3 linked regions of the Homo sapiens genome follow. The protein of the gene in region 1 purifies or fractionates together with the protein of each later gene. This does not show direct contact. Each region holds a gene or a part of one and is shown on either strand. Other genes may lie near its edges.

The links.
Region 2: the proteins of DACT3 (region 1) and ZBTB21 purify together in Homo sapiens (affinity purification with mass spectrometry, with the first as the bait; one large-scale study listed by BioGRID). This does not show direct contact.
Region 3: the proteins of DACT3 (region 1) and KIF13B purify together in Homo sapiens (affinity purification with mass spectrometry, with the first as the bait; one large-scale study listed by BioGRID). This does not show direct contact.

Annotation. Positions count from the first base shown.
Region 1 is NC_000019.10:46,647,535-46,651,277, forward strand, and holds the end of DACT3 (dapper homolog 3), read right to left. Parts: intron 2,339-3,743; coding exon 948-2,338; 3' UTR 17-947; downstream 1-16. UniProt on the Homo sapiens protein: May be involved in regulation of intracellular signaling pathways during development. Specifically thought to play a role in canonical and/or non-canonical Wnt signaling pathways through interaction with DSH (Dishevelled) family proteins.
Region 2 is NC_000021.9:42,008,160-42,011,902, forward strand, and holds the start of ZBTB21 (zinc finger and BTB domain-containing protein 21), read right to left. Parts: upstream 2,202-3,743; 5' UTR 2,093-2,201; intron 1,439-2,092; exon of another isoform or gene 1-1,438. UniProt on the Homo sapiens protein: Acts as a transcription repressor.
Region 3 is NC_000008.11:29,070,946-29,074,588, forward strand, and holds part of KIF13B (kinesin-like protein KIF13B), read right to left. Parts: intron 1,372-3,643; coding exon 675-1,371; intron 1-674. UniProt on the Homo sapiens protein: Involved in reorganization of the cortical cytoskeleton. Regulates axon formation by promoting the formation of extra axons. May be functionally important for the intracellular trafficking of MAGUKs and associated protein complexes.

The sequences.
Region 1 (3,743 bases):
GAAGTTGCTCAATAAATGTTAGTCCAAAGGAAAAAGAGCATTTCTCCCATTTAATCATTCAGTGAGAGTCCACCACATATGTTACACTGTGCATTTATTTACAAAGAGGTTAGAGAAACACACAGAATCTGGCCCCCCTTTGCACTGGGGAGTCACCATCGTCATAATAAATACAGTAATTTTAAAAAAGAAAAAAAATACTAGATTGGAACAGCTGAGGGTCATCAGGCTTCCCCCATTCCCTCTCACAGGGAGTGGGGGTCATGAGATAGAAACCATCTTCCTTCCCCTCTTCTACCTCCGAATCCTCCATAATTGTCCAGGGATCGAAGTGAAAGAGTCCTTCTTTCCAGGTGTTACCAACCCCTACTTGACCCTCAAAACCCCCAAATCAGTGCTCCTTCCCTTCCCAGGGCACTCTGCAGGGACCACCTGAGTCAGACACAGAGTCTCTGACCAGGGTGCCAAGGGGATATCTTAAGGGTCCAGGGACATGGAGGGGGCACTTTGTGAATGAGAGGGGGCCATAGCTGGGCAAGGAAAGGAGGAATGAGAGGGCTCATCAGGAATGAGAGGGAGAGCGGTGGAGGGGAACAAACAGACTAGGCTTCTAAACTAAAACGGGGAAATTCAAACCGAATTACCCCTTTTGCATACATGGACACTTACTGTACAGATGAGGAAAGTGACGCCCAGAGAAGGGGAACTGTCTTGCCCAAGGGCTTCCAAGCTAGAAGCTGAACTGGGTCAAACAGGGCTCCTCCCCATTCCTCTCGGTGGTGGTGGGGGAGCCTTTTCAACCAAGACTGTTAGGAGTGGGGAGAGTGAGGGGGGTCTTTGGAAGCAGAGAAAACGATGGTCTTTGGAAGGTAGATGTGGAAGGGTCAGTGGTTGGGAGTGTGGAGGTGCAGAGGCCATGAAGGGGGAGCCCAAGCAAATCCCCAAACTCACACTGTAGTCATGACCTTGAGAGAACCCGAACGGAAACGCAGTATCTTTTTCTTGAGCGCGTGGGAAGCTTTGATTTTCACGAAGACTTTGGCGGGGCCTGCGGGCGCCCCTGCACCTGCTCCACCCCCAGAGGCCGCGGTGGCCGCCACCAGCTGCTGCGGCCACACGAGGCCACCGCTGCCGTCTGAGTCGCTGGAGGCAGAGCTGAAGGCAGGCGATTCTCCCTCGCTGGCGCTCGATTCGCTCTCCCCGTAACCCCCGCCGACGCCTCCCGCAGGCCCCCGGCGTCCCAGGGGCCCCAGGCGCCCAGCCGAGCACTCGGAGTCGCTGCCCGCGCAGCCGTAAAGCAGACGACGCTGGGGAGCTGACGGGGACGGGCCGGGGCCGGGAACACGCGCCGCAGGGGCTCGGGGCCGCACGCGGCGCCCATCGGCAGCGTCGATCTCCGCAGTGGAGCGCCAGCGACGGCAGGACCCTGCGGCCTGGGCCGCCAGCGTGGGCGCTGGGCCGCGGCGTGGCCGTGGAGGCCGAGGCTCTTCCCGCTCCGCCGTGGGGTACTTAGGGGGCCCCGAAGGGACCGCGGAGGCGCGGCCCAGCAGGCTGGTCTCAGACTGGGAGCGCGAGGCCTTGCGGGCCCTGGGCGAGCCGCGGCGGCCCGAAGCCTCGGCCATGCGTCCACGGCGGCCGGCGGCCCGGGGACGCTCCCGGGGTGGTGACTGCTCCACGCTGCGGCCGCGGGTCAGTGGCGGCGGTTTGCGGCGGGCGGCGCGGCCAGGGAGGCCTCGGGTGGCCGCCTGCGCGCCCGGGATGTACTGCGCCTTCACCAAGCGGCCCTCAGCCGGGCTGTCGGGGGGTGAGGGGGCGGCGGGCGGCGCAGCGGGCTCGGGTGCCGCCTCCGACTCCCACGACGACGCCCAGGCGCGGCTCAAGGCGGCAGGGCTGGTGGGGTGGCCCCCGACGCGCTCCAACGAGGGCTCCCGCGCGGGTCGCGCGCTGCCGGGGGACGGAGACGCGTCGGGCGGCCGCTGGCGCACGCTGTTCTGGCGCCGCGGGCCGCCGTCCGCGCCCCCGGGACTGGTCCGGGGCTGGCCCGCCCCCCGGCGGCGGCGCCTGCGCAGGAGCGCCGAGATGTAGCCGTCCAGGGGCCGCCCTGCGCCCCCCGCGTCGGGCGAGTCGGTGGGAGGGCGGCCGCAGGGCCGCGGGCTGCGCATCGCCACGGCGTGCAGGGGGCTGGGCGTCAGAAAGGGCCCGGCGCGGGCCCGCCGCTCCGCCGAGGAGCAGGCCTCCGGGCCGGCGGACCCCCCTGCCGTCGGGTAGGGCGCTGAGAAGGACCGCGGCACCGCTGCCCGCGCGCCCACCACCTCCGGAGCGCTGGGACTGGCGTCTCCTAGGGAAGGAAGGCCAAAAAAAAAAAAAAAAGAGAGAGTGGAGGGGCTCTCAAAGTCCTTTCCCATTTCTCATCCAGCCCGGAAGGGGCGGGTTGCCTCCCTCCCTTCCATCCTCATCGCAGCAAAAACCCTGCTCTCACACCTTCCTTCTTGTAAAATTCATAATAAAATCTTTACAGGGTCCTACAAGACCCTGCGTGACTTGTCCTGCCTCTGCCTCTGCCTCTCCAACTCTCACAACATCTTACCCCCTATTTTTTTTTTTTTTTTTTTTTTGAGACGGAGTCTCGTTCTGTCGCCCAGGCTGGAGTGCAGTAGCCCGATCTCGGCTCACTGCAAGCTCCGCCTCCCGGGTTCATGCCATTCTCCTCCTGAGTGGCTGGGACTACAGGCGCCCGCCACCACGCCCGGCTAATTTTTTTGTATTTTTAGTAGAGACGGGGTTTCACCGTGTTCGCCAGGATGGTCTCGATCTCCTGACCTCGTGATCCTCCCGCCTCGGCCTCCCAAAGTGCTGGGATTACAGGTGTGAGCCACTGCGCCTGGCCTTTTTTTTTTAAGACAGGTTCTTGCTTGCTCTGTCACCCAGGCTGGAGTGCAGTGGCGCAATCATAGCTCACTGCAGTTTCCAGCTCCTGGGCTCAAGGGATCCTCTCGCCTTATCTTCCTGAACGGCTGGGACTACAGGAACGCATCACCATGCCCTGCTGATTTTTTTATTTTTTGTAGGGATGGGGTCTCACTGTGTTGCCCAGTCTAGTCTCCAGCTCCCAGGCTCAAATAATCCTCCCGCCTCAGCCTCCTAAAGTGCTGGGATTACAGGCATGAACCACTGAGCTGACCCTTCTCCTCTACTTATAGGACTCCAGCCACACTGGCCTCCTGAAAGCAGGCGCCAGTCACATTCTGGCCTCAGAGCCTTTCTGCTTCCCATTCCAGATTCCAGATGCCCGGAATGCTCTTCCTTCTGGATATCTGCTAGGTCCACTCCCCCACTTAGTTCAGGGCACAACTCAAATGTTACAGTCTCAGTGAAGCCCTCCCCAGCCATATTTTCTAAAATTGCACTTCCCTCCCCAAACTCAAAGGGACACTTCTGAGTCCCTTTCCCCGGCTTATTTCTTGTCATAGCACATGGCATTATTTCGTACCCTAGATATTTTACTTATTTATCCTGGTTTATTTATTTATCTATTTATTTATTTATTTATTTATTTATTTATTTTTTAGACGAAGTCTCGCTCTGTCACCCAGGCTGGAGTGCAGTGGCATGATCTCAGCTCACTGCAATCTCTGCCACCCAGGTTCAAGCGATTCTCCTGCCTCAGCCTCCTGAGTAGCTGGGATTACAGGCACGCGCCACCACGCCCAGCTAATTTTTGTATTTTTTGTAGAGACGGGGTT
Region 2 (3,743 bases), on another chromosome or scaffold:
ACATAGCTTATAATCTGCTCTCTCTACTTCCATTGGCTTTGCGGACAACTAAAACTGTCCCTTCGGCTGGGCGCAGTGGCTCATGCCTGTAATCCCAGCACTTTGGGAGACCAAGTGGGGTGGATCACGAGGTCAGGAGATCTCAAGGCCATCCTGGTCAACAGGATGAAACCCCGTCTCTACAAAAAAAAAAAAAAAAAAAAAAAAAATTAGCTGGGCGATGTGGCGGAAGCCTGTAATCCCGGCTACTCAGGAGGCTGAGGCAGGAGAATCGCTTGAACCAGGGAGGCGGAGGTTGCAAAACCAGGGAGGCGGAGGTTGCAGTGAGCCAAGATCACGCCATTGTACTCCAGCCTGGGGCAACAAGAGTGAAACTCTGTCAAAAAAAAAAAAAAAAAAAAAAGAAAAAAAGAAAAGAAAAGAAAAAATTGTCCCTTTAATTATCTCATTTCCATCGAGAGACCTTCTTAACTTAACCCCAATTTTGTTATTTACAATTTTTCCTTCAGAGTGTACACATCTAATATTCAACAGTGTAAGTTCCTCGAGGGCAGGGGTTATATCTTCTTCAACTTCTATTTCAACAGAATGAAGCACATTATACTTTCAATAAAGTGTTAAAAAGGAAAAATAAACAAAAAGTTACTTTTAAGTAAACCAGCACTTCAAATTTTGACTTTCTTTTTAACATCAATATTTAGGGGTGCTTAAATTTAAACTTAATGACTACTAGTCCTTAGAGATCATCATTTACTCCAAGTACACGAGGAAAGCTTTAAAAGATAATTTTCCATGAGAAATCTTTCTAAAATGGATTAACCCACTTTCTTGTCTTCTTAAACAAGGTATGAGGACCGTAATGTAAGCTGCTTAATTGAGGACTCAGGGTCATCGTGTGAACAATCGCTGGACTATTTTGTAACACACGCGTGCCCTCGGAGGCTCGGTGCCAGGGCTGTGAGCGCTTGCACGAAAGGAAAAACCCCAGGCCGTGTGAAGTCTAACTTTCCCCGTCCTCTCGGTCAGGCAATCCCACCGGGGCACCTGTCTAAAAACACCCCGCCTCCGAACGCGCGCTCTTGCGGAATTCTCCCGAACCGCAGAGCCCTCGTGGCTGGGACCGCATAGCAACCGGGGGCAGAGTGCGAGCCCCCAGCGGTGTGCTGGGATGGAAAAGCAGGAGCCGCTGAGGATGGACTACGGGGCGTGTTCCCGAAAAGCCGGGAAGAGATGTGGCGGGGCTGCCGCGGGCGTCTCTAAGGCCGGCACGGGTGGCGTCTTGACTCCCTGCCCCTCCAGCCGCGGACCTCGGACGGGGGGAAGGGGGCTCCTCCAAGCGGGGAGACGGTCGCCGGCCGAGCAGCAGGGCTCCTGGCCGGCGGAGGGTGCTATGCTCTGCGGGACCGCCGGGAAGTCCCAGACAAGGTCTGCGGGGGCTCTGGAGGAAAAAAAACGCGCTGTGAGGTCCAGGCGTCCGCGGGAGGGGCCGGGGGCGGGGAGGGAGCGTCCAGCGGGCACCGAGCGGTCACGCTCCGGCCACCGGGCCGAGGACGGGGCGGCGGGGCTAGGTCCCGGACCGTGAAGGGAGCGGCGGGTCGCGGCAGGTGCGGGGTCCCCAAGGCCGCCGGCCAGCTTCCGCGCACACCCCGCGGCCCGGGCCGCCGGCCCCCAACCCCTGCCCGGAACAGGAGAACGCGCCCTTCTCCACGAGGCGTTTCAACCGCTCCGCGCGAGGGGCGCGCGCCTGGGCCAGGCGTGTCCCCTACCCCAGGGGCAGCTCGGCCAGGGTGAAGAGTGAAGCCCGTGAGGGAATGGAGCATGCGCATTCGCGAGGGCGAGGCCAAGTGCTGGCAGGGAGCGTGCGCAGTGTGAAGGTACAATCGGCTACGTGGGAACCCGGGACATGCTCGGTGAGCGCCCAGGTCCCGCGCACGCGCAGAAGCGCTCGGAGCCCGCAACCCGCTGGTGGAGAAAAAAGAGGAGAGAAATCACCTCAGAGTTACGTCAGGAAAGGCCGCGTTTTGCGGGGAGGCTGTAGCCTCCCAAGGAGCCCCGCAGTTCTCCTAGAGCTAGGGGCGTGACAGTTACTCACCGGTCTTCAGTCTCGAGGCAGACGCCGGGCCCCTTTCCGCTCACACTCGGCTCGCGCGCGCCGCAGCCGCCGCTGCCGCTGTGATTCCATCCATCTTGAATTTGACGTCATCCCACACCAGGGATGAGGTCATCGCAGGCATCGCTCGTCACGTGCGCGGCACTCTGATTGGGCGCCGGGCGCCGGAGGGCGGGGCGGGGGGGGGGCCTCGCGGCGCAGGGGGACGGGGGAGGGCGGGCCTGCCCGGAGCCGCGCGCCGAACGGACGCTGCCGCGCTGCAAGCCCGCGCTCTCGGTCCATGAGGGGAGCCTGCGGCGGCCGTTAGGGGAGGCGGCCGGGCTGGGGGCCACGGCGAGGAGGCTGAGCGCCCCGGCCGGGTGGAGTCCGTCGCGGCGAGGAGCGCGCCGATTCTCAGGGGACTTTGCCGCCTGCCGGAGGCGCCCTTGCTGCGGGGTCGCCCCGGGTCATTCGGCCGCGGTCCTGCCCAGCTGGGCCGCCAGTAGTCCCCGCTTCCGGCGCGGCGGGATGCGTGGCGCGAGCGCTTAGTCCCTCGGAGGGGAGGACGCGCTCCCGTTCACCGGTGGACGGCGGGCGACTCCCCGAGCCGACGACCCCGACAGCGACGGGAGCGACGCGCGGCTTTCTGACGGGCGCGGGCGGCGAGCGGGGCCCTGCGGTCCTCGGGTCGGCGGCAGACGCTCCCGGCCCGCGAGGAAAGCCCGCGGGAGGCGGCTCCTGCCGCTCGCTAGTCGCTCAGAGCGCTTCCATTTCCTCCTCCCGACGCAACCTGGCCACCTGGCCCCTGGGCGGGGACCCGGCGGCCGCGGCCAGGGCGTCCGGGCTCGTTCGCCGCGCAGATGGGGGTCGGTCCTGACCCCCGCCGGGGCGTCCACAGCGGCCCGCAGGCAGCCGGAGACTTCGCATAGTGCCCGGCTCATCGGAGGGCTGTGATCTTTTTTTTTTTTGCAGAAATATTACAACTCCACTGATGAGAAAACTCACTTCGCTTTCAGTCAAAACCAGAAATTAGATAACAGAAATGCCACACTGTCAACACCGACCGGGAGGAAAGCCTCGCTGGCGGAGACCGCTCAAGGGAGCCCTCCGCGCGTTCTCCCAGCCCGGGTCGCAGGTGGAGGGGGAGTGCCTCCTGCAGGGACGGTTCTCCCGCAGACACTCAAACTCCGGGATGTAAAACCCCTGTTAATAATTGTCAGGGGTCTGTTAATTGCCAAATACAGTTTTTGAAAGTTGTATGCACTAGGTAAAATAATTTATGTAATGTTTGGAAGTATGTGAAAGACAGACATTAGATTGATACAAATTAAAAATTTGTTGCCAAATTAACAGCTCTGTTGTAGATTATTAGTTTGACTAATTTTAAGAGGACTCTTAGTCTTACATAAAGAATCTTGCACCTAAAAATTTTCTCCTACAACTTTAAAACACTTTAAATTTTTTTTTTTTTTTCCTGAGATGGAGTCTCTGTCAGTCCCAGGCTGGAGTGCAGTGGCATGATCTCAGCTCACTGCAGCCTCCACTCCCTGGCTCAAGCCATCCTCCCGTCTCAGCCTCGGCAGTAGCTGGGACTATAGGTGCATCCGTCACACCTAGCTGATTTTTGTATTTTTGGTAGAGATGGAGTTTCACC
Region 3 (3,643 bases), on another chromosome or scaffold:
GGCCTGGGGTGACCGCCTCCCAGGACAGTGAGCAGTGGTGACCAAGGATGCACAGCCCCAGTCCTGCAGCCTCAGGTAGGAGGTGACAGGCCCTGGGGGCCCTGGGGAGTGCCTTGTGGAAGCATAGGTGCAGGCCAGCCACTAAGGCACAACCGGCCCGCCTCGTGCGGGAACAGACCCTTCTCCATCTGGACCCAGGCCTGGGCTGGGTGGCGGGAGAATGGTTCTTTTGCTGAATCTATGAAATGGAAACTGGCAAAACTGCCAAATGAGGGCGAGTCAGAGGCCAGCGAGATGTGTCCGGATGGGGTGAGGAAGAGCCTCCTGGAACGGCAAAGGGGAGATGCTCTAAGGTGAAGGATGAGAAAGCAGAGCCCAGGGAGTGCAGAGGGCAGGGGAGACCGGAACAAAAGCGGGAACAGCCATGGCGATGGGGGGATGGGTACAGGATCTTTGTAGCCAAAATCATCAGGAATTTTCCATGTCGTCTCCAGGGACTAGCCCTGCCCCCAGCCTCACCCCTGCAGGCCCAGCCGCTCCCGCAGCTTCAGCCAAGCCGCTGCCTCCCGGCCCCTCCCTCTCCTGCCCGGACCCTGTCCCCTCCCAGGCCGGCCACGTTCCTGCTTCCCCAGACCCCCGGCACCACCCTGGAGCCCGGAGTGCCCGGTACCCACCTGAGGGCAGGTCGAGCTCCACGCCGACCCACGTGCCCTCTTGGAAGTCGGCAGGCCCCACGTATCTCACCACGCCCGTTTTGTGGGCGCCCACGGTGACGAACTCGCCCTCTCGGAGCCACTCCGGGACCTCGTCAGCTTCCTCGGAATCAGAGGCCAGGGCCTGTCCCCCGGCGCCCGGGGCCGGCGCATTCCCCTCGGCCCCCGGGGAGCAGCCGGGGTCCCCAGCCAGCATGCGCGAGAAGGAGCGCAACTCCGAGGCCCGCACCCTCCGGACGCGGAACGGGGAGCCGGGCGCCGGGGCCTCGAGGTCGGGGCGCTCCCGACCGGGGCTCACGAGCTGCTGGGGGCCAGGGGGCTCCTCGGCGGGGACGGCCGTGGGCGGTGGGGGGTGGCTGATGGGCGCCTCGGGCTCGGCCTCAGGGGCGGTGGGCATGGACCCCGGCGGGGCCGCAGCGTCCAGGCCGGGGCCCAGGGCGTCCGACAGGGTCGCGGTGGAGACGCTGTGGGAGAAGTACCCGCTAGAGGCTTCACTCAGGGGGCTGGGGGGCCCGTCCTGTGCCTCCGGAGCCGGGGTGACCGCTGTGACAGCTATGACAGGCGGTGGGGAAGGCACTTTGGCAGGTTTGTCGCAGATCTTCAAGGCCGGGGCCCCCATCGTCTGCACCAGCACGTCAGGGCCCATCTCCGGCTGAGCCTGCAGCAGGACGGGGAAGCAGGGGCTGAGAACAGAAAACTTTCCAACACGAACCAAGCAGGCAGCTTTGACTTGGAAAAGAGCATGAGGCCAGGGGCAGTGGCTCAGCCTGTAACCCCAGTGCTTATGGAGGGCAAGACGGAAGATCGCTTGAGCCCAGGAGTTCAAGAACAGCCTGGGCAACATAGTGAGACCCCGTTTCGACAAAATAAATAAATAAAGAACATGGCTGGGACCCGGCCAGGCCCTGGTTCCCACACTGGTTCTGCCACTTAGGGCTGCATGGCCCTGGCTTCCAAAGTGATAAAGGTTGAGGGGCCGACAGTGCACCCCGCAGGCCCTGTGCTGTGTGCCCAGGCTCAAGAGCACTGACCATGGCCACAGCCCCTGCCCCATCTACTTTTTACCTTTCATACAAAATAGAATCCAGGGCCTGCCATGCAGGGCCAGCACGCTACAAAGACCAAGGCCCCTCGCCACAGAGGGCAGCACACAGTAGGTGCACGCTAAAACCCTGCTAGGGCTAGTTAGCTTTCCTCCCATGGAGACAAAGCCCCTGCCCACCCCCAACCTCACGAAGAGACTGAGTCACTAAAGAGACCAGAAGAGCACTTTTTTGTCCGGCAAAACCTAAACAATGATCTCATCGGAGGACCGGAACACACTCAGCACAGCCTGGCCAGCTCAGGCACCAACAAGGAGCCACGGGCCTGCAGCCTGGCTGGGCATCCCGAGCAAGGCAGCAGGGGGACGAGGAGGGGTACGAGGAGGGGTATGAGGAGGGGGACGAGGAGGGGGACGAGGAGGGGGACGAGGAGGGGGACGAGGAGGGGGACGAGGAGGGGGATGAGGAGGGGACAAAGGCTCCCTGTGGGCCGTGGCCCTTTCTCTCCAAGGCTGCTGCTCTGGCTGCTATGGAAAGCAGGTGCCATGTCAGGGGCTGGGGGGGCCTCGGACCCTGGAGAGAGGCCAGGAAGCAGCCCCCAGGGAGAAGCCACCAAGTGAGGCCAGCAGCTCTCCTCATGTCGGTCACTCTGTCTGAGTCACCCAGGCAGAGGACACACACACACTCAAAGCCCACATCTCATGGGGGAGAGCAGCCACCGCTTGCCCAAATCCTATTGTTTCTGGGGCATTCTTTCATCTATAACTGAAGCCATGTGAAGAGGCTGCCAGATCATCTTTCTATTCCTATTCACAGTGACCGAAGAAAAGGAGAAGGCAGGAACAGGGAATGAGATTGGTGGGGTGGAGAGCACTGCTATCCAGAAGAAATATGTTTTCCGATATTTATGGAAAAATTATTTATATTACAGGAATGGTCATTTTCCATTTGAAATACGGGATTTATTTGAATGGGGAAGCGGCTGAGATCTATACGTCTCTTACAGTTACTTGGCTTACCTCAGCAGCTTGATAAATCATGCGTTTTCCCAGGAACTGTCCTTTATATTCCCGTTTCCAGGGGCCCTCTTTTCCCCACCAACCACACTTTCAGGGTAGGAAATTAATGGCACCTCTTGAGATTAACAGCCCATTTTTGTGGTGAATCTCTAGGCTGCAAAATTTACTCAATCCAATAGATCAATAACTGTCACCAGCATAAATACTCTAAAAGATTAGGCAATCCTTCAATCATTCTTCCTTTGCACATTGTCCATGTTTTATTTATTCTCTTCTATTTTAGTTTTAATATCACTGACCCAACAGGGGAGAATACGCAAAACTATGAGAGCCGGGAATCTGAACGGTAACCAGGGTCCTGAAATGGCTTCTGTTCCCCGCCCCCACCCCGGGTAAGGCCAGCCACTGTCACTTCCCCAGGCCAGGCTCTCCCAGGATGAGGCCAGCTGCATGCCTCAGATTTGCAAGTATCATCATCCCATTGGCTTCCATGTAAGACACTGGCTTGGGCTGGGCTGGAAGGATCATGGCATTATTCTACAGCAGGCCTCCAGAGGGGAAAGCCCTCATCCAAGGCTGCACTAAGTGAAAAGGCAGGCACTGGGGGCAGAGCTGCAGAGTCAACAAAGCAGGGAGCAGGATGGTGGAAAGCACAGACTGGCACTCCAGGCCCCATCCCCACTTGACTGGAGTTGATTTGTGAGTTGAAACCCAGATGCCATCTATGGATTATACCCTTGCCACTGAAGAAGACATTTCTGGAGACTTCTGCAAAAGCCCAAGCTTGGAAAACCACCATGATGAGCTACAGAAGCTGCTGCCTTCACTGGCAAGGGGCTTGCTCTGACCATCCTGCTGACCAGGGACA